7 linked regions of the Homo sapiens genome follow. The protein of the gene in region 7 purifies or fractionates together with the protein of the main gene of each other region. This does not show direct contact. Each region holds a gene or a part of one and is shown on either strand. Other genes may lie near its edges.

Evidence for each region.
Region 1: the proteins of POC5 (region 7) and GGH purify together in Homo sapiens (co-immunoprecipitation; one large-scale study listed by IntAct). This does not show direct contact.
Region 2: the proteins of POC5 (region 7) and RAB11FIP4 purify together in Homo sapiens (co-immunoprecipitation; one large-scale study listed by IntAct). This does not show direct contact.
Region 3: the proteins of POC5 (region 7) and PRCP purify together in Homo sapiens (co-immunoprecipitation; one large-scale study listed by IntAct). This does not show direct contact.
Region 4: the proteins of POC5 (region 7) and DCX purify together in Homo sapiens (co-immunoprecipitation; one large-scale study listed by IntAct). This does not show direct contact.
Region 5: the proteins of POC5 (region 7) and LUC7L3 purify together in Homo sapiens (co-immunoprecipitation; one large-scale study listed by IntAct). This does not show direct contact.
Region 6: the proteins of POC5 (region 7) and FHIP2A purify together in Homo sapiens (affinity purification with mass spectrometry; 2 studies listed by BioGRID and IntAct, with this or other methods). This does not show direct contact.

What each region holds. Positions count from the first base shown.
Region 1 is NC_000008.11:63,036,007-63,040,264, forward strand, and holds the start of GGH (gamma-glutamyl hydrolase isoform 1 precursor), read right to left. Parts: upstream 2,801-4,258; 5' UTR 2,763-2,800; coding exon 2,654-2,762; intron 1-2,653. UniProt on the Homo sapiens protein: Hydrolyzes the polyglutamate sidechains of pteroylpolyglutamates. Progressively removes gamma-glutamyl residues from pteroylpoly-gamma-glutamate to yield pteroyl-alpha-glutamate (folic acid) and free glutamate.
Region 2 is NC_000017.11:31,531,175-31,534,674, reverse strand, and holds part of RAB11FIP4 (rab11 family-interacting protein 4), read right to left. Parts: intron 3,060-3,500; coding exon 2,943-3,059; 3' UTR 1-2,942. UniProt on the Homo sapiens protein: Acts as a regulator of endocytic traffic by participating in membrane delivery. Required for the abscission step in cytokinesis, possibly by acting as an 'address tag' delivering recycling endosome membranes to the cleavage furrow during late cytokinesis.
Region 3 is NC_000011.10:82,822,436-82,824,933, forward strand, and holds the end of PRCP (lysosomal Pro-X carboxypeptidase isoform 1 preproprotein), read right to left. Parts: coding exon 2,471-2,498; 3' UTR 501-2,470; downstream 1-500. UniProt on the Homo sapiens protein: Cleaves C-terminal amino acids linked to proline in peptides such as angiotensin II, III and des-Arg9-bradykinin. This cleavage occurs at acidic pH, but enzymatic activity is retained with some substrates at neutral pH.
Region 4 is NC_000023.11:111,405,693-111,409,192, forward strand, and holds part of DCX (neuronal migration protein doublecortin), read right to left. Parts: intron 1-3,500. UniProt on the Homo sapiens protein: Microtubule-associated protein required for initial steps of neuronal dispersion and cortex lamination during cerebral cortex development. May act by competing with the putative neuronal protein kinase DCLK1 in binding to a target protein.
Region 5 is NC_000017.11:50,743,603-50,747,102, reverse strand, and holds part of LUC7L3 (luc7-like protein 3), read right to left. Parts: intron 3,398-3,500; coding exon 3,293-3,397; intron 2,452-3,292; coding exon 2,290-2,451; intron 1,384-2,289; coding exon 1,100-1,383; intron 562-1,099; coding exon 401-561; intron 1-400. UniProt on the Homo sapiens protein: Binds cAMP regulatory element DNA sequence. May play a role in RNA splicing.
Region 6 is NC_000010.11:114,820,651-114,824,779, forward strand, and holds the start of FHIP2A (FHF complex subunit HOOK interacting protein 2A), read left to right. Parts: upstream 1-1,428; coding exon 1,429-1,473; exon of another isoform or gene 1,474-2,298; intron 2,299-4,129. Other genes in the region: translation initiation factor IF-2-like, read right to left, coding at 846-1,451. UniProt on the Homo sapiens protein: Required for proper functioning of the nervous system.
Region 7 is NC_000005.10:75,676,531-75,679,437, forward strand, and holds part of POC5 (centrosomal protein POC5), read right to left. Parts: intron 1,421-2,907; coding exon 1,244-1,420; intron 1-1,243. UniProt on the Homo sapiens protein: Essential for the assembly of the distal half of centrioles, required for centriole elongation. Acts as a negative regulator of centriole elongation.

The sequences.
Region 1 (4,258 bases), on a different chromosome or scaffold from region 7:
CTTACAATAGCACTTGCAGCCTTCACACAACTGTAGACCTAGAATCCATCTAAAGAATATAGATCCTTAAATTTACAAGGCTGTCACTCCTTTCCCACACATACTCACAGACACACTGATTCCCTGACAACGAAGCAAAGGAGTGAAAACATCTTCCATCCACACCTCTCCAACATTACCTTAGCCCAAGCTATCAATATCTACCCTCTCCCCACCACACTATCATAATAGACTCTTAGAAGGTCTTGTTATATCTTTTCTTAAGAAACCCCCCCAAGCTCCAAGCAGCTCCCCATGTAGAAGCAAATCGGATCATATCACCATTCCTATTCCTACAGTCATTCAATATATACTGTTGAATCATACCTCATGCCAGGCAACAAACTAGCTGCTGGGGACACATGACTATGAGTGAACCAAACAAAAGCCCCTGCCCTGTGTGCATTAATTCGAGGGTGTAGCAGGGAGGGGAAAGAGGACAAACAATAAACAAGACAAAAAGGCATAATATATAGAGTGATGGCTGGTCGTAAGCACTAAGGAGAGAAAGACGGTGGGGAAGGAGAGCCCATCTATGTAGGAAAGGACAGTCTCTTCAACACGGTGGCCAGGCAAGTCCTCCCTGAGAAGGTAAAACATGACATTTGAGCCAGGACTTCAGAGAGGTGACAGAGTAAACCACATTCATATATCTGGGAAAAGAGCAATCCAGGACAAAGGAATAGCAAGTGCAAAGGCCAGGAGTCAGATTTGTGCCTGTCACGTTGCAAGGAATCCATATTATTAGAGCCAGGTGAGTGAAAGCAGAAAGCAATAGGAAAGGACATCAGGTAGCGATAGATCAGCAAGCAGGTGTCACCACTTTGTTTAACTACCTCAGTGGGTCCCTAAACTTTAATAAACTCTGTAAGACCCGTATGCTCTGCCCCACCCATCTCTCTGGCCTCCTTTTACCAGTGAAACCCAGCCCCAGCAGAGTATAGCAACCAGTATACATCAAAACACGTCTGTCGGGTGAGTACCTGTGCCTACTCCTATTCAGCACTTCAGCATTTGGAACACTTTCAGTGTCTCTGTAGGCCACCTGATAGGAAGAGCTGTTGTCTGTATTACTCACTTTTGTATTCCCAGCTTCTTACAATTGGCATTCATCAGGTATTCAGATTAACATGTCAAACGCCAAAATTTGTTCAGTAAAACTTTTTCTCCTTACTGGTAGGTAAGATCATCTTCACTAAGGAATAACAAAGTTTGGCTAGGGAACGAAGAACTAGGAGTGTCATAGGAAATGGAGTGGTACAGGGTACATGGGGTGAGGTACCACAAAGGAGACATGGGGCATCATGGGAGCACAAGGGTACCAGAAAGAGAAGTACATCAGAGTGAGTTCCACCAACATCTCCCCTTCCCCTGGGCCCACGCATATTCACTTTTCCCATCCCTGGGAAAAGAGCTCAAGCTGTTCTCCCTGTCCCTCAAAATATGACCAAAATTCCACCAATAATTTAAGGCCATCTCACAACTTTTGTGGCTTGTCATCTTTCAATCCTTTGCACTTCCCAGAGCAAGATTGTGTACATAGTCGGTACTCAGTTAACGATGTTGTGCTGATCTCAGTGACCAAAAGCAAAGTCCCTTTTTTAAATATTTGACGCAGGGCTACCCCTGATTCTAGGAAAGGGGAAGAATCCCCTCTGCTTTTTTTTCTCTTCTCTGGACACACAATATGCAACCTGTTACATTAATTACAGCTTGAGTTAATTCGTGGAGAATCAAATCACCATGTTAAACAGCTATGAAATAAGTTCCAAATATTAGTAAGCAACCCATTTGAAAACTGGGCACTACCTATATGAAAAAACATTCATCTACTTTCTGTTTAGTTACAGAATACAGTGATAATATTCATAGAAAAAAATAGTATGAAAGGCATAATCCTACAGCCAAAATAAAACTAATCTTAATGTCCACACACAAATTTCTTTGGGCAAATTTTAACCCCAGGATGATTTCTCCTAGGTAGCTTTCCTTGGGCCTGTCTCAAATGTGTGTTTTGGTAACACAGACTGATTTTACTACCTCTTTAAAACACAAATATGTTGGAAACGAAAAATTGTGGGCTGCATTTTAACACCAAATAGAACTCACATTAGGATATCAGCCACTGTTGTCCTCTGCTACTGAACATGACAAAATCCAAGTTATACCTTAATTTCTTGATTTTCTATTACAATGCACTGGTATTTTAAATACGCCATCAATACATTTTGATGAATGCAATGCATGTACAGAATTTGTAGATGTAAATGAGTAAAACTTCCCAACTATGTGCGAAAAGGAAATGTTTTATTTTAGTAGAAATTCCTAGCTGTGTACAAAAAAAGAAAATCCGCAGGATTCTTCATGGTGCACCCTCCTCCCTCCCACCTTTAAGAGTCATATGAGTCTAAAGGAATGAACGAGGTACCTCAACCAGGTACATTTCAGTACGACCTAAATGGTGCCCAGCCCGGGTTCCTCCTTGCACCAAAAGCGAAGCACATCTGGGGGTTTTTCCCGGCGGGACGCGCCAGCTGGAGCGCGGCGGCGGGAGGCGCCCAGCGCCAACACCCAGCTCCTCCCCGTCTGCTGCGGCCCCGCACAGCCTCCTTACCGATGATGGGCTTCTTGGCGGTGTCGCCGTGGGGTCTAGACAGCTCGAGGCTCGCCGCCCCGCAGAGTAGCAGGCCCAGCACGCACAGCAGGCAGCCCGGACTGGCCATGGCGCTCGCCGCCTCCCGCCGCCTTTCAAAAGCTCTGCGGGCGGGCGGGGGCTGCGGCAGGGACACCTCGCGGCAGCGCACTCGCGTGAGACTCGGGTGGGCGGTGCTCCGCAGCGTGGGCCTATGGGAAATGCAGTCCCGGCGCGCGCTAGGCGGCCGTGGGGCGGCGGTGGGAGGCTCTGGGAGTGCAGCCGGCGCTGCGCGCCCGCCCCATTGCTCTGTCCCCGGTCCGCGACCGCGACCGCGACCCCGACCCCCACGGGCCGCCTAAGCGGAGACTCTGGAAACGCCTGGGGCGGGTACCGGGTGGTCTCCGCGTCCTTCCCTTTCAACTGTTACGTCGATGTGGACTTCAGTCACCCGTACAAAGCTGGGCTGGCCAACCCAGGTCCTCGAGAGGGGAGGTTGGGTGTCCCCGGCCGAGTTTGGTAACCAGGCAGCGGGGAGGCTGGCAGGGGATTCTAGAAGGCGCCTGAGAACTGCGCGCCAACCGCACCGCCCCCTTGAAGGTCGGGGCCCTATCTCCGGGAATGGTGACAACGTTCGCTGTACGGACAGCCTGTGCCCCTGAATGTGAATGTCCACACTTGCTATTTGGGGGGTCGCGGCATCTGTAGGAAGTGAAGACGGGACGGCGATAGGAACACACGCACAGGCGCATCACTAGGGTCAGAACTGGGCCAACTCCGGGCGTCTACTTTGAAGCGGGCACGCCCAGGCCACGCCTGCAAACGGCGTCAGCTTCCTCTGATCAACCGCGGTCAGCGCCATCCACCGACCACCACTAAGCCTATCCACCGGGGCAGAAAAGATGACTGGTTCCTATTCGTTAAAACTGTTGATTGTTCCTAAATACATGGATATATAGCTTGTACTCAGTGAAAGTTTCCATCTATAAGGGCCAACTGAAATTCAGCATAAAACAAGAATATTTGAAAACCTGCTACATCAATGCTCAGTATTAAGGGTGAAAACGTAAATTGGACAGTCTTTTTCACAAGAGGTTTAAATTCAGTAAGGAAAAAAGGCAGAAAGCGTGACTCGTAGAGACAACAGGAACAATTTTAGCATGTTGCAAGAAGAGTAAATGCAGTGAATAGTCTGGTTTAACAAGAAAATAACGCTTCTGTAGAAGGGTGTGGTGAGAGGTAAGCAACAAAGGATGTGATGAAAGACATGAAAGGGCCGAGCTGGTTTTGAGCATGATTAAATAGACAAGTAGCCTTGTAAATATGAACTTGTGGTGCCAGAATAATTGACTATCCACATAGGAAAAATTTTTTACCCGGCGTTACACACAAAAATAAACTCGAGGTGAAGTGCATATGTAAATACGAAAGCAAAATATTATACTTTGATAAGAAAATATATAAATATATCTTCCTAACTTAGGCTGTTGGAAGAGTTTCATAAAACATTAAAAATAAAAATGTTAATTAAAAATTGACTATATAAGAAAATTAAAGTTAAAGCACAAACTTGGAAAATATAGTTAT
Region 2 (3,500 bases), on a different chromosome or scaffold from region 7:
CTCTTTAAAAAATCCCATGCCTGGGCTACACCCACAACAATCAAACCAGAACGTCTGAGGATTCAGTCTAATCATCAGAATTTTTAAAATCTCCCCATTTCAAATATGTCCTGGCCAGGCATGGTGGCTCATGCCTGTAATCCCAGTGCTTTGGCAGGCTGAGGTGGGAGGATCACTTGAGGTCAGCAGCTCGAGTGAGGCAACACAGTGAGACCCTGTCTCTACAAAAAATAAGAAAAATTAGCTGGGCGTGGTGGTGCATGCCTGTAGTCCCAGCTACTCAGGCAGTTAAGGCGGGAGGATCGCTTGAGCCTGGGAGTTCAAGGTTGTGGTGAGCTATGATCATACCACTACACTCCAGCCTGGGCAACAGAGCAAGATCCTATCTCTAAAAATAACATCTGTCCCATGTATTAGATAGAACATATTTATTCTAAAATTATTTTCTATCTGAAATTCAAACTTAACTGGGCATCCTGTCTACTACCTCGCAGCCCCACTACTGAGGGGTAAGGGCAGAAACAAAGATCAAGCTCCTACCACCTAGGCTCTGGGACCTGCCACCAAGGGGTCTGGGATCTGCCAGGGGCTGTGGAGCTGGGACACCTGGGGCATCTGCCCCCTCAAGCTAGCTTTTGAGCCCAGAAGAATATTTTTACAAACATACACCATCTTTAAAAGCCAAGCAACAAGCCAGGTTTTACAAGAAATGTATTCTGGCTGAAGAAAGTAAGGTTGGACTTGAGGTGTGTGTGAGCTGGAATTCAGCCCCCCATTTAAAAGCCAGGCCTGCTCCAGAGGCCCCTCTGGCACTGCAGCAGGTCCCGGGGGCCTTTCAGACGCCGGCTCCCTCCGGAGCCTGTTCCCATGGCGCCCCTTAGAGGGAGGAGCCTGAAGCACGCCCCAGGCTGCCAGCTGCTTCCGCCCACCTTTCCCGTGGCAGAGATTCCTTCCCACGTTGTGACTCAGGCTGTGTAACCCAGGCCTCTGCAGCCTTCTCTGAAATTCCAATGCAGCCAAAGGGCAGATAACATTTTACAGATAAAATACTCAACCCTGGGGTAAGGCCCCCACGCACCAGTACTCCTTCTGACCTAACACCCAGGCCAAAGCTATGTCAGGATCTGTCTTGTTCCTTTCAGCCGTGGCCACTCCTTCCTATTGGCAAATTCTCAAGAGACCCTCTCCTCATGCCTTCTTCCACTGCCTCTTCGCAGAACCCTTGGGGGAGCCCAAGGAGACCCGCGTCCTAAGGGGCTGAGAAACTCCTAGAAGACCGACTGCCTAGCCTAGTCTTCCCAGTGTGGGTGGCTCCAAAGTCCTGGGTCAGACCAGTGCAACCCCATTATGTGCAGCATGAAACTAATCCCCAACAAAAGATTAAAAAGAAGCCACGAGATCCAACAAATGCAAAGGCTGATTGGAATGGAATTGAAGGTTGGTCCTGGCCACAGCCCTGCCTCTGTCAAGCAGGTGTCACACCCAAGTCCCCAGATCCCCTCTCCTCACCCTCACTGCCCTCTCTTTCTGCAACTCCCCCTCCACCGCCCTTCCCAACATGCCCAAACCTTCCTTCTCATACTATAAGATGTGCTGAAGAAAGCAAGAAACTGCAGGGGGAAGAATAAGACCACACACGTTTATATATATTTGGATTAAGAAAATGAATCACAAGCCATATAAAATTGAGATAAATTGGAAAACTCTAAGGTAAGTACCATGTCTATTCCCAGCTGCCTAGAACAAAGATCCATTAAAAATCCATGGTGTGAATTTCCACCATGGGTCAGAAGGATGGAAGACTAAGGTTTTCCTGCAACTTTCCCAACCGCCTCCCACCAGTGCAGCGAGTGCTCCCCTGGCTGAGAATCAAATACAGGTGTGTTTCTAAACGCTGGAACGAAGCAGTCTTGCTGCCACACGAGTGGAGCCCGGAGCTAGGATTCTGAAATCCAAACCCAGGCCTGCCATCACCAGGCTGCGTGGAGAATGAAGACAGGGAGCCAGGCAGACGGTTTCTCCGTGCATCCATCTTAAGATGCAGCCATGGGAAGGAAACTGACTGGGATGGGAGTTGTGTTCCTCCCCAAAACTCATTTCTTTGGTTGCCCGATGTCAACTCCTGCCTTAGACACCCATCCCAAACCCTCCTTCTCCTTCATTTTTATCCCTTCATGTTACAATGACGCAGTGAATGCTGCTTCATTGTCTTAAAACTGAAACAGAAACGGGGAGGTAGGTAGCATGGATGGGGGAGTGCACGAACTCTATAGGTACAGGATGAGGATGCCCCGCACTAGCTGCTATGAAACCTGAGTCCTCTGTTCACTCTGCACACACATCACAGAGGGCTGCTGGCCGGTGGCCAAGGCATTTGGTGAGGGCCCCATCTCATGGACCCTCCAGATGCCCCTTCATCCTCTCTGAGCTTGAACACTGGGGCTTGAAAGGTGGCCAAAGAGCTGGCGAGGACACAAATATGGGGCATTCAAACTCCTAGGAAAGATCACAATTTTGCTCCCACTCCCAAGGGGACTAGGAGTGGGGTGAAAGAGCCCATCGTACTAGAGCGAATGTGAATCCTTATCCCCAGAGGTAGAATCATTTTACCCAGTACCGGAAACACGAGCTTCCAGTTCTTGTTTTTACAGTAACTCCTGATAGCAGACCTTGCCTCCTCCCACTTCCAGTACCCTCTGCCCCTTGCAAAGGGGCCACAAAGTGCATGCACGGCTAACCGTGTGGATGCTGCCCACAGCCACGGCCACTCACCCCTCGCTCGTGTGCACAGCCTCCCCACATATACACGGGTACACGTAACGCATGGTGGCCAGAGAGACATTTACAGTGTGAGTGTGAGGCCCGGCTTAGGCCTGCATCCTTGGGCAGGGTCTGCCCTTGGTCCCAGGGTCCTAAGGCTGCTCTGCAGCCAGCCCCGTGCCTTAGTGTTTGATCTCGAGGATGGAGGGATTGTGGTCCAGGATGGCGAGGATAATCTTGTCCATGTACTGCCTCAGCCGGAAGTTGATCTCCTCCTGCTCCTTCAGGGCTTCCATTAGCTGAAGGAAATGGGAAAGACGGGTCAGTGGCTGGGCCTGGGATAGGGTGCAGGCAGAGTCCAGACTCCCAGGCTTGTCGCAGGCCAGTGCCTGACAATAGAGGGCATCAGGAGATCCTGGGCAAGGTGGGCCCCAGGACAGCCTCAGCATTTGGATGCCAGGACCAGAGTCGAAGTGGCTCAGCCCCTAGTATTACCTATGCAGGTGCCCAGGCCCCACCCCCAGAGATTCCAATGTGATCAGTTTGTAGAGGGGGCCCAGGTGTGGGTAATTTTTTGCAAAAGTAGAAAACACTAGCCAAAGTCATTTAAAATCAAGACTGACAAAGTCCCAGGGCCGCTAAGACTCCAAAGGGGAGCTGTCTCCTGCCTGGAACACCTCTCCCCACCCCCAGCCCCACACTGCTCTTCTCCAGGGCAGTGTTCTTTCGGACATTGCTGA
Region 3 (2,498 bases), on a different chromosome or scaffold from region 7:
TCTAGTTCCCCATGATTCCTGGTAACCCAAGTCCTGGAGCTGATCTGGCAGTTTCAAAACATTTCTTTTCCTTAAGCTGGTTTTGTGGGCTTTTGTTGCTTGAATCCAAACAAAAATAAAACTGTACCAGTAAAATGAAGCAAACAAAATTTGCCAAAAAGGAGCCCCAGTTCTGCCCCAGTTTTGCCAAAAAGGAGCTGTGAGGCCGTAGATAAGTTCCTTCTCTCTAAGCTACAATTCTATCCCTTACAAAATGATGCAGTTGAACTGGATATCTCAGGGGCCTTCACCCTCTACTATGCTGGCTTAGACACTGGCTCCTCTGGATAACCTCTTGGCGCTACAGATTCCTTATGAAGGTTCTCCTAAGTTACTTTAGTTCTACCCATTGACTCCAGGCAGTTAAAGTAACAAAAACAGAAAATAAAAAGCACCCAATTCTTTCTAAGCTCTTGGGAGCTGAAAAAAATAAAAATAGAAAGCACTCAAGTCTCCATGTCTCTCTTTCCCTGTCAGTAAAAAGTGCAGTTTTATTAGAGGGATGCTTTAAATAATAAGGCTTATCTGACACTCCAATTCTTTTTCATGTTAAAATTAAACCTTAGCATATTATAATTATACTCACTTCAATTAAGGCTGCTATCTATATTCCTAAAATGCATACAGTAATAGGATACAATTATGCTTGCCAAAAAATTCTATTTTTTGCAGTTTGTTTCTTCAGAATAATGTAACTCATCCAAATAATCAACATCAAATAAAATGGCAAAGTATTTTAAAGATTCTACACAAGGGAAAAACCCTAAAATCGTAAAATAAATTGTAAGAATATCCTCTATTGAGCCCATAAACCCTGCATTATTTAATTTCTTAGTTGACAAAGAATAAAAACTAGTATTGTTTTGGCCCTTAAATTCCCACCCAAATCGATTGTTCTGTGATGCTGAAACAAAATAGTTACCAAATGCTTTGATAGACAACTCATTACAATGAGAACTGAAGGCTCCCAAAATAAGACAAAGATTTTCCTGTATCTCCCAGATGCCAGGGAAAGTAAAGGAAATATTTCAGCTTTCCATCCCAAGAATGAACTCTATATATGCCCTTAAAAAAAAAAAATGCCATAAAAATGATCAAGCTCAAGGTACAGTTTTTTAAAAGCAGAAAATGTTCCCAAGGCAGGGTGAAGAAAAAAAAATTATTGAGAGAAAATGAAAAGAAACAAGGAGGAAGAAATCTTTCAACAGAGTAGAAACTGTTAGTCTCTCTCTCTCTGTCTCTCTGTGTCCCTGAAAGGTTTTGATCCAACCCTATTTGTTATCCTAGAAAAGCTCTCTGAAGAAAGGTCTCAGTGTAAGAACTGCTTGAAAGAAGCCAACCCCTTGGAAATAGGAATGGCTTGGCCATTTATTAATGTCAAATATGCTGCCTGCATGAATTAGTCAGCTTGTCTTTTGGAAGTCATACAGAAAAGTTCTTGTGCACCTGCCTGTTAGTGTCTAACACTTCTGGTTTTAATGACAGCAGTAACAACTATCAGAAAATAAAATTTTAAAAATTTAAAAGCTGAATATTACTATATTCTACTTTTGGAATAGCTGATTCATCAATTTTTAAAGGCTTCTTACTGAAATATAATTAGTGACTACAGCATAAAGCTTGCTCAGATTTAAAAAGACAAAACAGAGTCATTTTCCTAAACTGGCAGAATTCAAACAAATTAAAACTGACCTTAGAAACAAAGAGAAATGGAGCAGAAAAAGGCCAGATTTCTTACTGGCAGTACCACAGTGGCCAACATCCCAGAACTAAGAAAAGCTGCCAAGTGGAAGAGAAAAAATTAAAGGACTTTCCAAAAACAGCTAAGCCCAGTGCACACAGCATTTCCATCAGCCGGAGTTGAAGTGAGCTTCAGAAGCAACACACAGGTATAAGGTCCAGCTGTATTATTTATTTACAGCACAGTTCAAAGTCATTAAATCCGGTACAAAAGAAATGGCTCTCACTTCCTGGATTGGCACCAGACATCCTACCAGCTGCAATTACATCATTTTTTATCTATCTTCTGCTTTTACTTTGTGTAGGGTAGGGATGGGGACTTACAAATGGGCCAAAGACACTTCAACCTCAAAACCAAAGAGAAATCTCTGCTTGCAGAGATACAAAGAAAGTAACTCTCCCTCTTATGAAAAGCAACCAGGAACTCTACTCCAGTTATGAGGGCCACTGATGGTGTGGGAGAGCTATCAAGAAGATTCTTCCTAGACGTGGTGCAAAGACAGTGAGAACCCAGGAAATCACATTCATGGGACACTTGCTCTTACCGTCATCACCCTCTATTCTATCTCAACTTTGGCCCCATCAAATCTAATGATAAACAAAAGAAGGTAATTACATGTAGAAAATCAAAGTGAATGGGAATGTGGTGGTGTGAACATAAAAGAAGAAATTGAAAACAATCAAAAGTTTCTCAGTGCTGCTTTCCCGCACTGTCATAG
Region 4 (3,500 bases), on a different chromosome or scaffold from region 7:
ATAAAATAAAAAAATAATAAAAAAAACAAAGACATGACAAAAGGAAAACCCACCAGTGGATTTTATTCATTGACCTCCTTGGGATACAGCTAATGAGGACCATATCCTACATGGCTTCACTAAGACCCTCGGTGTACCCAAGGACTGTGGGAAAACTGACATCAATAACCTTTGATCCAAAATGCTTCCCTTGATACTTTCTGTATCTAGCAGAAAACCGTAGACAAGAGGCACTAGACAAAGGAGTGTCACAAGGCCAGAGTGATTATTAACCAATTATTTTTAAATTTCATTTATTTTTAGGCTAAAAATGTAATAATGTGGCCATTTGAAAACACAGTGTGTTCTATGCTCTATTATTCCTTTAAGATGTAAAAAGAAAAAAATTAAAACAGATTTCTGCACGTCTCAAAACTCCTACCACTTTAGTTAGGTGAATGGAACCATCAAGATCACCCAGTCTAATACTTCCCAAGTCTAAGTGCTCATAAAAGTCATGTGAGGAGATTTGTAAAAACACAAACACTGGGGCCCTAGCCCTGGGGATTCTGATTCAATAGATCTTGGGTGTGGCCCAGGAATGTAATATTTTTCTAAAGCTCTGAAAGATTTTGAAAGGCAGCCGGGTTTGGAAACCACTGACCATTACAATCCCTTACTAACATAATCATTGTCATAATCATTATTATTATTATTTCCATTATTAGTATTTTCACATCATTAATAATAATAGTACCTGTAGCTATAATTTTACCTTGTCAATATGTTTCCATATCTATTATCTAAGTTTAACCTTACAACCACCCTAATGGATAGAGAAGGCAGGTGTTACTAGTCCCATTTTACAGTTAAAAATATTATTCACAAGAGATACACAAATGTGGTGGTCTACATATACATGAAATATCATCCTTCAACAAAAAGGAAAGAAGTGCCAATACATGGAACAACATAGATAAAATTTGAAAACATTATTCTAAGTCAAAGAAGCACAAAAGACCACATAGTATTTGATTCAATTTATATGAAGTGCGCAGAATAGGCAAATATGTGGAGACAGAAAGTAGATTAACCATTGTCTAGAGCTGAAGAGATTGGAGAAAATATGCAGTGACAACTAATTGGAATAGGGTTTCTTTCTGAGGAAATGAAAATGGTCCAAAATTATGTTATGATGATGGTTGCACCACTTGATAAATCTTCTAAAAATCATTGTACACTTGAATGGGTAAATTTCATGTTATGCAAATTATACCTTAATACAGTTGTTTGTTTTTTTAAAGAGTTATTTTAAAAATAATTAACATGAGTCACATTAATGATAAGAACAAACCTATGATCATGTAGCTAACCAGCTATAAACTAGGATAACTCAAACAATAATAACTACCTTTTATTAAGCACTACTGTGTGCCAGGCAGAGTAATATGCACTTTATATCTACTGTCTTATTTAATCCTCAAAGCCATTATTCCCACTTTACAGATGACAAAATGAGGCTTAGGGAATCTAGATGGTTTCCTCAAGGTCTTACAGGCTAGCACTGACAGATCCTGAATTTCAACCAAATCTGAGTCCAAAGACTTCTGTTTTCATTATAATCTGCTGCCTCTAAGACTAGAACCCAATGACCCTGATATTTCACACCGGGAAGTCTGTCCTCCATTCCCAGATGGGCAGTTCTAAAATATAAAATAGGAGAGAAAAAGACACATTGTCTTCATCCTCCTCATCCCAGTGCCCTTTCCCATTTGGCTCTGTGGCAGTGGGAAAATTGATCACATTTCTTAACACTATCCCAGACATAGCCCTGAATTTTCTTGACTGAATAGGCAGTACTAAGGACTAAATGGGTATTGAGGTCCACTGTGCCTTGTAGTTGTACATGACATGTGAACAAATGCAACTGAGCCCTATTCACACTTCACATAGTCCAGGAATTCACCAAGAAGTACTACTGCACCCAGGAGTGACAGATAAGAGGAGTTCAACCTAATATGACTCAAAGGTAATCAAGGGAATAGAAAGCTGCAGTCTTTTCAAAGTTACATTTATTGCCTACCTATGTTGAACAGAGATTATCACCAGCCCCTCGTGATACATCAATACGCACACACACACACACACACACACACACACACACACATATCTAGGGAGAAAAATCAACATGTAAAAAATGGATTTTGGGGAAATTTTGTGCATAACGCCTCTCTTATATCAGAGACAAGAATATTCTAATACTTGGTCTGAATACAATGTCACTTGGTTCAGTACTCTTTCCTAATGTCTATTGTGGTCTTTAGAATATCACAGTTCATGGAAATGAGGACATATTGGGTGATACAGGGTGCTTTGTCTGTGAAAGTTGTTACAGAGAAATCCCTGAAATTTGACTGAGATGTGGATTTTACAGTGACAAAAGACAGACACCCTAACAATTACTCTGTTGGACAGCTCCCTCGACCTAGCTTCAAACCCTTCAAAGTTGCCGTGACTCTCCTTTATTTTAAGACATGCTCCAGGATGGCCAGTCCTTTGATGGTCAGGAAGGGCCTAGGATTAACCACTGCCTGTCCATTGAACACATGATGAAATAATCTAAGCTTCCTGGGCATTGGTTTTCAAGGTCAGCTATGTAGAAAGATCTCGGCCAGGCACAGTGGCTCACACCTGTAATCCCAACACTTTGGGAGGCCAAGGCGGGTGGATCCTGAGGTCGGGAGTTCAAGGCCAGCCTGACTAACATGGAGAAACCCCACCTCTACTAAAAATACAAAATTAGCCAGGCATGGTGGCACATGCCTGTAATCTCAGCTACTTGGGAGGCTGAGGCAGGAGGCAGAGGTTGTGGTGAGCCAAGATCATGCCATTGCACTCCAGCCTGGGCAACAAGAGCGAAACTCTGTGAAAGAAAGAAAGGAAGAAAGAAAGAAAGAAAAGAGAAAGAAAGAAAGAAAGAAAGAAAGAAAGAAAGAAAGAAAGAAAGAAAGAAAGAAAGAAAGGAAGGAAGTCGAACTTGAACCTTGAGACTCAGATGCAGCAACAATATGGACACTGTCTTTTATAAGTAACTGGTCCCAATCACTTTGCCTGACAACTTGGGCAACAGCAGCTATTTGAGAGAACTAGTGTCTTGTACAAAGGAAACCCTCATTCTCCTTTGTCTAGGAACACAAGAAACTTAGAAGCAGTGAAGCAGAGGCAGGTTTTTCCCACATCAAATTCTTTAAGGTGCTATTTCTCCTTCCTTGTTAGTTATTTCATAATTTGGTTACTCTAGAGATCTGCCTGCTTTAAACTCACCTTTGCTCAGGGAATGAAAGGAGTGAGGAGAGAGGGCTGGATAATGGGGGAGGGGCTTGAGGAGGAACACATTAATTATCACCACTCCTTGAAGCTGTTCTTTAAAGCACTGTATTAGGTCAAATTGATCACATGTGTTATATCCACCAATTTTAAAATAGGGAAGCATCCTCAGTATAATTGATTTGATAATATAG
Region 5 (3,500 bases), on a different chromosome or scaffold from region 7:
ATGAAGATTAATGCAACAATGTACACTCACTTTATAAGACGTATTATGAAACACTGCAGTGTGTAAAAAAAAAAGGAGCCAATAACCAAGGTAATATAATAAATCCTACACCTAATAACCCCGAAAGGTAATATAACACTTAAAAGAAGCTACATTAAAAACCTTCAGGTTTATCAACTGAAAGATGTTTTTAACATCTAAGAAAACACCAGATAAACTGTCATTTTCACAAATCTAAGTAGGAGAGGGGGAAAGAATGCCTGTCTCCTACTGAATGGCATTCCTCAAAGTGAAAAGGAGTATGTATGAAATGGATCTTTGCCTGTGTCTGGAGAAAAGTGAGTGGGGCGATTAGGGTGTGAAAAGTTTCTTAATGAACTGAATTCTCATATAAACTAACCTTTCTCCTTGGATTTTCTATCTTGTTCTCTGTCCCGACTTTTGCTCCTGTGCTTATATGACTTTCGATCCCGGCTTTTTGATCTTCTTCGATCCCGACTTCGAGATCTGTGTTTTCTTTCTGATCGATCATGGCTTCTGCTTCTTCGTCGATCTCTACTTCTTAATAATTTAAAACCAAAAGGCAACTTCAGCCAGTATTACAATAAGTAAAGGCCTTGGAGTAGATGCTATTAATTAACAAGACTAGGCAAAACTTACCCTCTAAAACATATTTACATTAGAAATCTTAAGAACTAAAAATTATTGAAAATCTTTCTAAATTCATCTCCAATAGTGCTAAGATGGTTATCGTTGTGCTCTTTAAGACTCTTCTTCAATTTGTAATTATAATTAAAACAGTATGGCTGATTTCATATTTTATTTCTCGGAATCAGTGAGACAAGCACTTAAGAGACCATCAGGTACTCTAACTTTGTAAAAAGGTTGGGTGAAATTTCCTAGACAGGTGGGAAATGGCACAGAAGTTGCCCCGAAGATGGAACTATTTTATTCACTGATTCCGCTCTCGCAACCCATCCTATCACTTAAAGATGCTTAAGAGCTTCCCAAGTACCATTCCAAGGAATAATACTAGTAGTTATTATTGTTATTGCACACCCATTATGAGCTGGACAGTCTTAGGGTGTTTTATATATACCTGCTCCGCCTTCTTTCTCTACTTCGTGACCTTTTGTGGTCCCGAGACCTGCTGCATCTTCTGTCTGATGTTCGGCTTGAGTGTCTACTTCGTGAACGACTTCTCTTTCTTCTTTCTCTGTCACGAGCCCTTTCTTTTTCTCTTTCTTCCTCTTCCCTTCGTCTTTTCCTTTCTCTTTCTTCCCTTTCTCTCTCCCGTTCTTTTTCTCTTTCTTCTCTTTCTTGCTTCTCCTTTTTTAGACGCTCATCACGATCAGGTTCTTCGGTTCTTTTCCTTAACTTTTCCTAGAAAAATCAAGTTGGATTCTTATGCAAATGTAACTTTAAAGCATTGTTAAACAATGGTCAACTAATGTGAAGTTATCTGTAGACCAACTTATGGAATTGATGCCCTTAAGGGAAATGTAGACATTCCAACACCATGTATATACACAAGGTATCATTATTTGTCTAATCCTCAGGAATATTCTTCCCAAATTTCTGGCACTCAAGAGTTAAGAAAATCAAGTGCTTTCATAGTTCAATAAATAGCAAAATTTCACAGAACTCACAATGCTTCAAAAATAATTACACATAGGAAAATATCAATGAGAGGGTCATATCTCCATTTAAGCCATATTAGAATATAGTTATTTTTATCTATAGCTACTGATAGCTAAAAGCTGTAGCTATAGCTAAAATAGATTTTTTTAATAGCTAAAATGTATCTTTAGAAGAAATTTACGCTGGCCGAGCGCAGTGGCTCAGCACTTTGGGAGGCTGAGGAGGACGGATCACCTGAGGCAGGAGTTCAAGACCAGCCTGGCCAACAGGAAAAAACCCCGTCTCTATTAAAAAAAATACAAAAATCAGCCGGGCGTGGTAGTGTGTGCCTGTAATCCCAGCTACTCAGGAAGCTGAGGCATGAGAATTGCTTGAACCCCAGAGGTGGAGGTTGCGGTGAGCCGAGATCACGCCACTGTACTTCAGCCTGGGTAACAAAGCGAGACTGTCTCAAAAATAAACAAACAAACAAACAAACAAAAATTAGCCAGGCCTGGTGGCACATGCCTGTACTCCCAGCTACTCAGGAGGCTGAGGCATGAGAATTGCTTAAACCTGGGAGGTGGAGGTGGCAGTGAGCTGAGATCGCGTCACTGCACTCTAGGTGACAGAGCAAGAATCTGCCTCAAAACAAACAAAAAAACTTACTTTTAATTCTTCTACAGTAGCTTTAATTTTGGCATAGCCCATGTGTTGTTTTCCCATCAAATGGTCATCTACCCGGGACTGGGCATCTCCTACTATTAAAAAGGCTCCACATACTTCACAAACTTCCATTTGTTTTTCTTGTGCAGCAAAGCTTTCAATTGTCTAAAATGATAAATCAGTTATTTTAAGAACATCTGAGGAAGAGAAACAAATCCCAGGAAAGTACTCAACATTTAGAAAAGATTTCTAATGTGTGTGAATTGCTCTTTTCCATTTCCCCAAATCAGTAATATTGGACTACAAGTGGTCAACTTTTAGAGAGGGATGTTTAAGGTAACAGCAACTAACTTACTGAATCATCCAGAAGAAATGTTGAGACCCACTGTTCAATGTTCAACACCCACATTACCTTACAAAATTTAAATCACCTTTCAGAAAGCCACCTATTTTAGTATGAATACATTCCTTGCTTAGGTTCAAGGAATAATGTCCATATACAAAACTAATTAAGGAACTAAGCACATTGACTATAATCTGAACATATCCTATTCAATATGGAGGAACCAATGACCAATTACATTCTGCAATCAATAGTATCTGAAACAAGTATATTCTATTCTCCAATTAAAAGAATTAGATATTTAAGGGTGTATTAATTTTTAACAAAGATGTAAGTATGTACTGAGTAATTTATTACAACAAAAATGAAAATAAAACCAGGCTCATATGAAAATTTATGGTTTAAGGCAGTGATTGGCAAGCCAGAGAGGCCTTTTGCTAACATTTTATTGGGATACAACCACACCCATTTGTTTCTTGTACTATATAAAGTTGCTTGCATACTGCACAAAGGCAGAGCTTAGTAGATGCCACAGACCTTGTGGGCTACAAATTGTGCTGACTCTAAGTTTGGAACATCAGTTTTCAAAGGTTCTCAAATAAAAATGAGTTCCTACTAACTGTTAACAGACAGATGAGATAATGTGAAATAAGGTTTACTCACCGACGTTGTGGACCTTAGCAGTTCTCTCTCTTCTTTTAATTGCTCAACTAATTTCATCATCCCCTGGGCTTCTTCTACTTTTCCTTCAGACCCTAATTCTTCAATCTTAGAAGAGTAGGGGAAAAAAACAGTTAAGATTTCTTTCAAACCCAACTATTGTCTTTTTTCCCCATGGTTCATTAGTGGTTGTTTTCCATCTTTTTTGTTT
Region 6 (4,129 bases), on a different chromosome or scaffold from region 7:
CCCATTACACCACCACGTTCGGCTAATTTTTTTTTTTTTTTTTTTTTTGTATTTTTAATAGAGACGGAGTTTCACCATGTTGGCCAGGCTGGTCTCGAACTCCTGGCCTCAAGTGATCCTCCCGCCTTTGCCTCCCAGAGTGCTGAGATTACAGGCGTGAGCCACCGCGCCTGGGCCAGATACGTATTTTCAGCACTGGTTGTGCAAAACTCACTCCCCACCTCATCTTAAGAACTTAATGAACCTTTTGGTAAAACGCCAATACCAGCATAAAACAAATTTCTTCAGGATACAAATATTTTCATAATTTGTATTAACTCAACCTAAACTTTACCAGCCTGAACTGCTTCTTCAAGGCTTGACTAATACACTGTTAGGGAGTATTTTAAGCAGCCTCCACCCAAGTGCTTACCTTGTAGCTCTATTTATCTGCCTTAGGCATTTACTGGACTCCTTTCAGATTCTTTCCCTCGCTAATGTTTTCCGGTATCATCTGATAACTGAATAGAAAATGCTGTTCTGAATCACTACACCTCACTATCAACCATATCACAAATAAATTATGTTATATATTATATATAAATATTATAATGGGCTATTTAAACTAAGCCAGCCGTCTTACCATGTGCTCATGTGGGATTTCCTGTTTCAATGTTGAATAATAATATATTTTAAAGTTAGCAAAGCCATTTCACCTGCAGTCGTTGATTTCTTCAAAATCTGAGCATTTAAATCCATTGCCAATGTTTGCTTAAAGAACACTGTTTTCTTAACGAGTCTTCCAAATCGGTCCTTACAGGAAGAACCTCTGAATGCTATACGCATATATGGACGGCTGCGTGTCCCTACAAAGTCAGCCTGTTACTTCCACTGGAGAAACAAAACTCTTGAGAATCGCTGAGCTGTAAAAATGTTAGAAAGCCGGTGTCCCAGGCGCCCTGAGAAAGCCGGGAGAGGGCGGTGGCTGCCCACAGGCCGCCTCCAGCCCCGCGCGAGGCCGAGGCCTCAGCGCGCCCCCCGCCCCCGCGGCGCCTAGCGGCCCCGCCGCAGGGCAGGCCTGGCCGGGCCTCCCCGGGCTGCGGCGGCGCCCCCTGCAGGCCGCGGCGGGCAGAGCGGGGGGAAGGAACCCGAGCCGGGCTGCCACCGTGTCCCAACCGGTGCCGCCGCCGGAGCTTCTCCGGGCCCCGAGTCCTCGCCGAACGCCCTCCTCGCCGCCCGCCGCGTCCCGGCGCCCTCCGGAGCCGCCGAGCCGCCCGCGCACACCTGAAGCGGCCGGGCCAGGCCCTGCCTCGATCCTCAGCTCGTCCTCCCCGCCCCGCACCGGCCTTCACTCTGGAGCGGCCCCGGCAGCCGCAGCAGGGGCGGCGGCGGCGGATCGAGGAGCTCTCCAGGTCGTCCCGGGAGAGGCTGCTGCAGTCCCGGGACAGGATGTTCTCCAAGTTCACCTCCATCCTGCAGCACGCCGTGGAGGCGGTAAGGCCGCGGGCTGCGGGCGCACGGCAGGCCGGGGATGGCGGCGGCCTACGCTCCCCGGCGGCCTCGGGGACAAGCCGGGCGGCCTTGGCCCGGCCCTCGGCGGCCCTGTCCCCGGTTGGGGTGAGGCCCCAGGCGGGCGCCCTGGGCGGCCGCCGGGTCGTGGGGGCGCCCGGGGCCTCGGGCCTGGCTCTGCGGGGGTCCCGTCGGTCCCTGGCTGCCCCAGGCCGGCAGTCCCTGCCCTCCTCCAGGAGCCGGGGCGGGGGTGCCGGGGAGGACCTGGCCGCCCAACGCCGCTCGGTGGTCGCCTCATTCCTCTGATGGGGCCGGGGGTTCGGGGAGCACCTGGCGGGGTCGCAGAGAGCTCCCCCGGGCTCCCTTAACGTTAACCTTCTCCGGAAAAAAAGTGGTCAGCGTTGAGCAAGACAAAAGAAACGAGCAAGCACCGCTTGGGCTTGGTTCTGTTTTGTTTTGGTTTTCGGGGGTAGAGGTGGGAGAGGCATGGTCTCGCTGTGGGGCGTCCCTGGCGAGGGAGCCGCCGACCAGCCCCCGGGTTGCTGGCTTTTGCTTTCTTGGGCCTGGAGGCCGAACTCAGCTGAACCTTATGTATTGATCTGAAATAGGAGTTTGGAGGGTCCAGTCGAGTTTGCTTTCGACAGCTTCCAAGCTCACCGAGCCCAGAGACCATCTGTTTCCTTTCTTGTCTAGTTCTCTTCCTGGACACTCTTCGTTTATCCTGCAATTGTACTCTCCTTTGAGGGTTTTAGACACCAGCATAGAGACAGTATTCAAGTATCCTAGTAGACTAATAAGTGAAAAGAAACTAAAAAGAAAATGCCTTGTCACTGTTCTAGTAAGAATGCTAGTTGCTTCACTTGTTTACTTTATTCTGGGAGAACTGCCCAAATTGAAAAATGCATTCTGTGCAGAAACAATTACTTTGCTAATTTTTAACATGACATTCTCTTCCTATGTTCATATTATGTGATAGGACACTTTAAAATGTACACTTTAAAAATGTCAGATACAACAATGATTTTTTATGGGCAGGCAAAAATGGAGTTTTTGCCTTCAGTAATAAAAACAAACTTTAGTACAATTGTTATTTAAGTGATACATGAGAAGCGTTAAAAAATTTAGCTCTAGGGCAAGCTCTTGGGAAAATGTATCAAACAGGAAAAACAGGGTTTCATAAATGTAGAGCAGTATTACACGGAGGGAAATGACAGTGGTAGACTTCAAGACAACTTTTAGTTTTTACTTGCTTATACACACTCTACTTTTGTTGAAAGAATTTAACTGCAGTTTATTAAAACATTTAAATTTTGTTTTCTTTAAAAATACCAAGAATCATTTAATTTTATTTATTTATTTATTTATTTATTTTTTGAGACCGAATCTCATTCTGTCACCCAGGTTGGAGTGCAGGGGTGTGATCTCAGGTCACTGCAACCTCCGCCTCCCGGATTCAAGCGATTCTCCTGCCTCAGCCTCCCTAGTAGCTGGGATTACAGGCACCCGCCACCACACACGGCTAATTTTTTTTTTTTTTTTTAGTAGAGATGGGGTTTCACCATGTTAGCCAGGCTGCTCTCGAACTCCTGACCTCAAGTGATCGCCCGCCTTGGCCTCCCAAAGTGCTGGGATTACAGGTGTGAGCCACCACACCCGGCCCGAATCATTTTAACCTTGAATATATGAAATACTTGGGAACACTTAATGAGATACTTGGTAATCAAAATTTACTATATTGCAGTCAGCTGTCTTATCCGTAGGCTCTGCACCTGTGATTTAACCAAACTCAAGTAAAAAAATATTTGAGGGGGAAAAAAATTCTGCAGAGTTCCAAAAAGCAAAACTTGAATTTGCCATATTCAAGTACTGCCTTGAATCCATGTGAATGAAGTGATGTGTAGGCATTGTATTAGGTATTAGAAGCAATCTAGAGATGATTTAAAGAATACAGGTATGCATAGGTTATATGAAAATATGCCATTTTATAACAGGGACTTGAACATCCTCAGATCTTAGGGGTAGGAAGAGATGTCCTGGAACTAGTCCCCTACAGATACCAACTATATTTATATCCTTTACCCATCAGGCTAGTATTTACAGAAATAAGTACTTAGAAAAAGAAAGACGGCTTTCCTGCTCTCCTAGTAAAGGCTCATTTTTATCCGGAGGCCTGTGTTTTCTTGTCCTCGTTATCTTTTTATAATTGTATATATTAGCATCTGCCAAATTATCTGGCTCCTGCTCTGTAATATCCTTAGCCTACTTTGCTGAGGTTAGTGAGAAAAAGTTAGAGTGGCTTGTGTTCACCTAGTCCTGAAATTAATGCATTGCATTTAGAAGTGTAATGTTTTCATTTGCTTAGACCTAATGTTTTCATTTGTGGCACCACCCATCTTATCTTGATAGGAGGTTAAATCTCATGAAAAATGTTTGATGTTCTATACTAACCTTTTTTTCCCCCCTTTTAACATTCTCTCTTGGGAATGAACTCATGTGCAATGATGAATAAGCCATCCTTGTGTATTTGGATAGTTTTTTCGTAGCCCAAGGTTAGTTTCCAGTTATTCAGTTCTGTTTATTAATTTGCTTGATATTTTCCTCTATGAACCAATCTTACCATTCCTCAGTTCATTTCATTAGC
Region 7 (2,907 bases):
GTGCCCAGCTAGTACTCGGGAAAAAAGGATTTAAAATCATTCCATATACTTTTTTTTTGCTAATACTTAGAAAGTACACAGGAACGTTGTCCGATGCTGAGAATTTATAGAGGGCATTCTCTTTTAAAATCAGTCCCTGAAATCAGCTGGGGGTGGTGGCGGGTGCCTGTAATCCCAGCTACTCGGGAGGCTGAGGCAGGAGAATTGTTTGAACCCAGGGGGCGGAGATTGCAGTGCGCCAACATTGCGCCATTGCACTCTATCTAGCCTGGGAGACAAGAGAGAAACTCTGTCTCAAAAAAAAAAATAAATAAAAAATAAATAAATAAATAAATAAATAAATCCTTGTTTTTCTTTAGGGATGTTCTTATCACTCTTATTATACTTTTTGAGATAATTGTTGATTCGTACACATTTGTAGGAAATAATTCAGAGATATCTCATGTATCTTTTTCTAGTAACTTTCAGTAAGTTAAATTTGCTTATGGTTTTATAGTTTATAAAATGCCTTAATACATCTCGTTTAATTTTCACATTATCTCATTTAATCTTGAATCCTAACAATAACCCAAGGAGCTAACTATTTTTATTAACCCCATTTTACAGAAGAGAAAGTGGAGGCTCAAATATTTTACTTGATTTGTATATATCACAAAGCCAACAAGTAGCAAAGCTGAAGCACTAACTCGGGTTTTAAAATTTTTGCTTCAAATTCAATGCACCTTCTTTATATCACATGCATTTACTGCAAGTTGAATTTTGTTAAACTAAAAACATGCTGACAATTGTACTGAAAAAAGGGGAAGACTTTTTTTAAAAAAGGACCAAAAATTAAAAACTATAAATGTAGGGGAGTTTTCTTGTAATCAAATATCTGCTACATGAGCAGCTAGTGAGTGAACAATTTTTGTCTCTTTTTAAACTGATAATAAAGCATTTACATATTTTACTCTTTTGACCACAAACACACTGGATTACTTTTAGTATTTTATAATTTTTACAGTTTGGAAGAAACGATGTTTCTGAAATTAATTTCCCAACAGCAGAAACGTAGATTTATAGCAGGTTTGAGAAAAACAAGTATATATATTAAAAAAAAAAAAAAAACTGTAACAGGAAAAGGCAGAACAAGTACCAGTCATCATAAATTTTTATCTTCTCAACATGTTATGTAAGTGTTTACTAGTCTATGAACTCTCAGGAAAAAGACTTTTTGACAAAAGGTCATCAAATGTGGACTCACCACTGTGACTGGATGATGTTTTTCCACAACAACTGAGCTCATGGGAGGAGAAACTCCCATTATAGCTAAACTGCTGCTAATTCTATTTTTTGAAGCAAAATCACATCTTCCTGTGATCCGGGCTGTAATAGTTCTTCCTGCTTTCTGTTGTGCAGAGGTTACAACTCTTGGCACATACTAAGAAGAAAAAAAAATAAAAGAAGTAACAAGGTGGCAGAAAATCCACAGCAAAATCTATTGATTCCATAAATTATGAAGAATACACAGGCACTTAAAATAACTGTATGTTCAACCAACTTTAACATGGAAAAAACAAAATCACAAGACGAAAAGCAAAACAAAACTGAACACCCCAAAATATCCCTTTAACCTGAGTATGCCAACGATTTTATAAGATTTTAGAAACTTAAAAAACCAACTTTTTTTTTTTAAATGATAGATTTATAGAAAGACACAGAGATCATATTGAAAAGTACTGTGTGCTCTTCACCCAGTTTCCTGCCATGGTTACATCTGACATAATTAGAATATAACAAAGTCAAAACCAGGAAGCTCACCATGAGATAATGCCTGTGTATAGATCTCTGTCATTTTATCACCTAAGTTCCTGTTAACTATCACTCAATCAAGATACAGAATACTCATCACCACGAAGATCTCCCTCGTGCCACCCTTGACAGTCATATCCATCTCTCTGTTCCTTCCCCAACCATCCTTAACCTCTGGAAACCATTAATCTGTTTTATGGACTCTTTGATCCTTAAGCATAATTAATATTATCATTACACATATGCTTCTGTGTTCTGCCTTTTTTCCTTCTCATTTTATTAATATACTTTTTTTTACGAGGTAATACAGAGACCTGCTATAGTTCTTAATGAGATGGTTTTTATACCAACATACTACTTTGTCTTTCTTTTTCTATTACATTTAGCACATTTTGCAAAAGAAAAATCCTCTTTTGAGAGTTACTTCTGTATAATAAAAATATATTGCAAACAATGGAACGATCATATCAAAAAGTATTATCAGCTTTTATAGCTTTTGCTGCTTATCGCTGGATAATACTCCAGAAAAATATTTACAGCAGGAATAACACGTAAGTGGACTATTTTTCCACTGTCAATCAATTACACAGCCGCCTGTTTAAGTCTGAGGTGAAATCTACTATTCAAGTTGTGGTTCTTTATTAATGTTTCATATTTGTATTCCATTTTGTCAACTATTCATCTTATTTGCTAAGAATTGAAAGGATATTAATATTTAAATTTAATAGTTCCTGACGAGTACTAAACTCATTTAATAATTATAGATACTTATCTCAGAGTGTAAACGATTTCCCCATTTCATGTATTTGTCTTAATTTTCAATGCACATCCATTTTTTTAAGTTGTGGTTAATCCTGTCATTAATTTCCTCTTGCTTCCATGATGAAACCAAAACCAGCTTTGGACAGCTGAGGTAGTTATATTCTTATAACATTTACTTATTTTGGCTTAGCTTATTAAAACATTTGAAATTCCAGTGTGAAGTATTAATCTAAATTCATTTTTTCTCTAAACAGTTTTTCCAAAGGCATTTATTAAGTATCAATCTTTTCCCGATTATTATAGTTCATCTGTGATTCTCCATATAGCTGCATCTAGCTACACACAGTCACAGCT